Linked DNA regions of Homo sapiens: region 2 is linked to region 1. Evidence: fine-mapped expression QTL. A gene starts in region 1. The other region holds a variant in brackets. All regions are shown on one strand. Distances are between the middles of the regions.

Region 1 (2,908 bases):
GTCAGTGTTCTCCAGAGGAACAGAACCAACAGTTATGTAGGGAGAGAGAGAGAATTTCTCTTCAAGAATTGGCTCATACTATTGTGCAGACTTGGTAAATCCATCATCAGCAGGGTGGGCTGATAGGCTGGAGACCCAGGGAAGACCTGAGGTTGAGACCAAAGGCTGTCTGCCGCCAGAATTCCTTCTTGCTCAGGGAAAGTCAGTCTTTTGTTCTATTCAGACGTTCAACTGATTGATGGAGGCCCACACACATTAGGGAGAGCCATCGGCTTCACTCCAAGTCTGCCGGTTCAAGAAATTCTAATCTGATCCCAAAAACACCTTCATAGAAACATCTAGACTAGTGTTGGGCCAAGTCTCTGGGCACTGGGGTCCTAGCCAAATTGAGACATAAAATTAAGCACAGGGGAGAAGAAAGAAAGTAAGGAATGGAAAAGATGGCGAGATAGAAGGCAAGGCGAAGGAGGCCCTGTAAGCTCCACGGCCCGCCCTGGGCCCTCAGAGACCACAGCACACTTGGCATCAGCAGAGAAGCTTCAGGCACAGCTGTGCTTATGCACAGGTTGGCACACAGAGACCCAAGCACACTGAAGACACAGGTCAAGGAGAGAAAGCCCCACCTTTGCCCCTAGGAGTGCACAGAAATCCCCCTGAGGGCTCCACACTTCCACAAGTCATGGAATTATAGGCTTTGAGCAAAGTTTACCAGCCTTGAGGCATAGGGAGGTCACAGGTAATATTTAGGTTACTTTTTTTTGTTTTTCTGTGATGCTTCCGTCTTCCTGAGATCAGCCAGTCCTTCTCTGCATTTGGAAACCAAAGATTCCATTCCATTCTATGCGTTTGAGGCATGTCCAATTTGCAGGTGACCAGACGCTCCTTTTAGAGGAAGTGAAGGAACACAAGGGGTAGAATATTAGAAAATGTTCCTTTCCACAGAATAGAGGTCCAAGCCCAGTGCCAGGAAGAGGTTTTCAAAGTTTCAGGAGAGAGCCTCACTTTTGATAAAAGAAGATATTATTCAACAATACCCATGAAAGCTGTCTTTGAAAATATTGTCTCTCCTTCTTGCACCACTCACAAACATGTCTGCTGCCCCCATCTCTAGAATAATCCTTTGCTGAGGCCTCTGGAAAGATTACTTCACACCTCCCTGCTGGCAGGTGGCCCTCCGCAGGGACTGTAAGAGGAGCCAGGGTGCTGCTATTTATAGCAGCCCCCACGCCACTCTCACGGACAGCTGCTGACTTTGGAGTCGCTTTAGAGGAAGAAAAGAAGGGCTGGTCACTGCAGAAACGACGTAACAATGTCCAACTCGGATTACCTTCCCGACTACCCACTCAACTCAGATTTAGTGAAGAGATTAAAGTCTGCCCTGGATGCCAAAGATGAGGAGAGAGTGAGGGATTTAATCTGCACTGAAATCACGCCTGTGGACGCTGTGATAGAACTGGCCAATGACGACTGGATGAAAGACCCCTCGGCTCAGCTGCCCACCGGCATGCTGCTAGGTAACCAGAACGAGCCTGCTGCATCTGGGATTTAATTACTAAGTTACACTGATGGGGTGGGCAGATCCTGGAGGTAGAGGGGCAAATGTTTGGAAAAAGTAAATGATATGTACTCGGATATCTGACTCTCATACATACATGCATATATGTGTACTGCATAGACCATGTACATGCGTGTGCGACATAAGCAACAAGTGCAACACAACACAAAAAAACTAATCCTACCACAGTGGCTGCTCTGTGGCTCCATTGTTTTCCAAGCCTGTCCATTTGCGTGTGTAAATTTCACCCACTGATAACCATATCATACACATAATTGTGTGTTCTGCTCCCTTGAGATCTACAAAATCTAAATCTAAAGCATTTTCCATGTTGCTACATAGTCTTCCCAATTTCAATCCCCTACTGAAATACTTAAACCAAATGCCTACAAAAAGATAGTATTTGGTTACCTTTTTGCTTCTATAAATAATGCTGTAACGAACATCTTTATTAGGATTCATACGGCTTTTTTCTTTTTTGGGATTATATCCTTACCATAAATTCCTAGGAGCCATATAACTGGAACAAGAACATAACATTTTTTCAAATTGTATTGTTTCTAAATTGGTTCCAAATTGTTTTCCGCAAGGGTTTCTGTTCCCTCTGACAGTGAGGTGATGTGTTTCACCACAACCTCACCAAGGAGCATCACTGGTAATGAATGTTTGTATTAAATTGCCATTTGATAAGCACACACTGGTAATTCTTCACTGCCTGTCGCCCATCCTTTCTTTGCAGGTCTGGACAAAGTCTTGTCCATAGGATTTTTTCTTTGTAGGCCTCATCAGGTGCAAGACCTGTCTATTTGGGTCTTGGGCAGGAACTCTCCATCTCTTGGAATCATTTTTATCATTTTGTAGGACTTCTTCACGTAACATAGACATCATCCCTTTGTTAGGTTTCCTGAAAGTGTTTTCCTGACCTGTGATTTACTTTTAGTTGTATTGTGCTGTTTCCCAGCTTGTCAGATTAGGGGACAAGGTTAGTCTTGGCCTCTAAGGGATGCTGAGGGCTCCTTTCCACCCCCATTCTCCCTCCCAACATAGGTGCACACACGCACACGCAAGTACATGCATCACATGCACACGTGTGCGCAACATGCAGGAGGAACACAGATGGGACATGAGTGGGAGTTGCTGCTAGGGAATGGAGCTTGCAGGGTGCTGAGGCGAGGAGTCTGAGATTGGAACTTCCGAGGGGGTCCGCCCCCCCCCCTTGGTTTGGGTCTACTTTCTGGGCTGCCTTTCAGTGGGGACTTAAGCAAGTCGCTTTAGGGAGGAACCTTCTCTTGCTTCCTCTTCACCTTGGTTTTCCTAATATCTGGCGGGGGTCCATAGGCCCAGGAGCCATGA
Region 2 (2,908 bases), 27 kb after region 1:
GACCCCATTTCCCAGTCACCCCCGTATTTGGCAAAATCCTCTTGCTTCTCAATACCCGGCGCCCCATCTCTCTAGCTCGGTTTTAGCCTTCAATCTCTCCTTTGTATTTCTTCCTCTGTCTACGCCTGTCTCTTCCCAGTGTGTCTCTCTGCTCTCTGTCTCTGTGTGCGTCTCTGATTCTATCCTCTTCTCCCTACATGCCTACCTGGTACCTACCTTTAAGAGACGGCTTCACTTTCTTTCCGCCTTAAGGAACACCGCCCACCACCACCACAACTAACCTCCCCCTGACCTTACATCCCACCTCCCTCCCCGCAGGCCTCTGGACCCTGGAGTACAAGCGTGAGCTCACCACGCCCCTGTGCATCGCCGCGGCCCACGGCCACACCGCCTGCGTGCGACACCTGCTCGGCCGCGGCGCAGACCCAGACGCCAGCCCCGGCGGCCGCGGCGCCCTGCACGAGGCCTGCCTCGGGGGCCACACCGCCTGCGTCCGCCTGCTGCTGCAGCACCGCGCCGACCCCGACCTGCTCAGCGCCGAGGGCCTGGCGCCTCTGCACCTCTGCCGCACGGCCGCCTCGCTCGGGTAAGGACCTCGGGACAGGCCCGCGGCGTCCGCCCCGCCCCGAGACCAGACGCCCGCCTCCCCCCACGAGACCGCCGACCCCGCCTCCGCCTCCGTCCCAGCCCCCGCCTCCGGACCCAGACCCTGCACCCTTGACTCTGCCCACTGGATCCCCAGACCCGCATCCGCCCCGTCCCTACCCCGGCCCCTGCCTCGGGACCCAGATCCAAGATCCCTGACCCGGGACCCCAGACCTGGCACCTCCCGGCCCTCGCCCCGCGCCCCGGCCCCGGCCCCCGCCCCGCGCCCCGGCCCCGGCCCCCGCCCCGCGCCCCGGCCCCGGCCCCCGCCCCGCGCCCCGGCCCCGGCCCCCGCGGGTTTAATTAGCGCTTGATTGCGAGCGCGCGCGGGAGGCGCCACGCCGAGGTAATGAGCGCGGTGATCACAGCCCAGCCGCCGGCGCCGGGGATGCTAAAAGGCCACTGGCGGGGTTGGAGGCTGAAAAATTAGGGTTTTTAATGATAATTTTATGCAGAATAATTGTCACAGTGTGACATAAATGGTTAGCTCCTCGGGCGGGGCTTCCAGGCCCGCTCGGAAGCGGAGCTGTGCCGGCCTCTAGGGAGGCCCAGCGGCCGCTCAGCTAGTTCGCGCCCGGGCGCGGGGTCTGGGGGTCCCGCAGCCCCCGTCCCCAGAGAGCGCCCTCCCAGCGTGTGCTCCGGGTCTCGGAAAGGCAGCGGGGCCACCTGTCTTTGCACAGGACTCGTGTGGGGTTTCTCGGCTTGCATTGTGTCATCCTGACTTTTCTGTTAGTCAAAATGCTCCAGCCCCTGCCCTTGGAGTTGTCATTGCATGGCCTTCTGTCTCTGGG[G/A]GAAGATTAAGGAAAGTCGCCCACGTTTAGTGCTGGGAACCCGCGCGGCTCTCTCAGAAACCGCATCGCCCTTGCTGCTTCTCCACCGACTGTCAAAGTTGCCTGGATGTCCTGCCCAGCAGGGGCAGCAACGCAGGCAGGCGGGACTGCTGGGCATTCAGGGACTCAGGCAGGGGACCCACCTAAGAAAGGTCATTTGAGTTCAGAGGGGGGATCAGGGGGCCACGTGGACCCCCGCCAGTCTTGAGAAAGAGGAAGGAAACAAGGTTCTAGCAATGCTCTTTAAAAGCAGCTTTACCGAGGTGTGATTGACATTCAGCAAGCGGCACGTGTTTAAGGCGTACAATTTGATAAATTCCGCAGACTTATACACTCGTGCAACACCCCGCAGTCCATGGAGGGCAGATATTTATCATTCCCCCTGTGGCCTCACGGTGCCCACGGTTCTCCCTCCCACTGGCCCCTTTCTCACTCTCCATCCCTAGCATCTGCTTTCTATTACTTGGCTTAGTCTGAATTTTCTAGAATTTTGTATAAATGGAATCTGCAGTCTTTTATCTGGCTTCTCTCGCTCGACATAATTATTTTAAGATTCATCTGTGTTGCTGTGTGTGTCCGTAGTTCATTCCTTTTATTCCTGGGTAGCGGTCCGTGGTATGGATGAACCACAGTATGTTATGTTCATCCATTCAGATGTTGGGAGACATTTGATTGTTTCCAGTCTGGGTCTTTTACAAACAAAGTTATCATGCACATTTGTGTGCCAGCCTTTGAATGGGCATATGCTTTTATGCATTTTGAATAAATACCTAGGTCACACGGTATGATTAAGAACATAACTGTTAGGCTAGGTGCGGTGGCTCATGCCGGTAATCCCAACACTTTGGGAGGCTGAGACAGGCAGATCACTTGAGTCCGGGAGTTCAAGACCAGCCTGGGCAACACGGCAAAACCCCATCTCTACAAAAAATACAAAAATTACCCAGGCATGTTGGCATGCACCTGTAATCCCAGCTACTCAGGGGGCTGAGGTGGGAGGATCGCTTGAGCACAGGAGTAAGCCATGTTCACGCCACTGCACTCCAGCCTGGGTGACAGAGTTGAGACCCTGTCTCAAATAATAATAACAATAACTAATAAATGGCCCAACTAGTTTTGAAAGTTGTACCATTTTACATCCGCACCAGCGATGTCTGCATGTTCCAGTTGCTTTACAGCCTCACCAATACATGGTATGGTCAGGGCTTAATTGTATACATTCTAATAGGTGTGTACACATGTCTTGTTATAGTTTTGATTTTCATTTCCCTGGTAACTAGCGATGTTGAGCATTGTTTCATGAACTTACTTGCCATCCACATACAGTCATTTGTCGCTTAACGATGGGGATACATTCTCAGAAATGTGTTGTTTCATCATTGTGTAAACATCATAGAGTATATTTACACAAACCAGGATGGCATAGCCTACTG

Alleles and levels. Alleles are on the strand shown, and positions count from the first base shown. SD is a standard deviation of normalised expression in the study named.
With allele A in place of G in region 2, the expression in putamen of the gene that starts at base 1,249 in region 1 is lower (moderate effect, 0.73 SD a copy in GTEx).

The links. PIP is the estimated chance that this variant, and not a neighbour inherited with it, causes the effect. A credible set is the group of variants that fine-mapping cannot tell apart.
Region 2: its variant is the best candidate, but not a certain one, in a credible set for the expression of ASB18 in putamen (GTEx, PIP 0.67).

The regions. Positions count from the first base shown.
Region 1 is chr2:236,262,747-236,265,654 of GRCh38, reverse strand. It overlaps ASB18 (ankyrin repeat and SOCS box containing 18), which reads left to right and starts at 1,249. Exons shown (of 6, transcript NM_212556.4): 1 at 1,249-1,514. The coding sequence starts at 1,310.
Region 2 is chr2:236,235,367-236,238,274 of GRCh38, reverse strand. It overlaps ASB18 (ankyrin repeat and SOCS box containing 18), which reads left to right. Exons shown (of 6, transcript NM_212556.4): 3 at 319-586. Among named protein-coding and RNA genes, the nearest start is that of ASB18, 28 kb to the left of the region's middle. The variant G/A (reference allele first, on the strand shown) is at 1,437.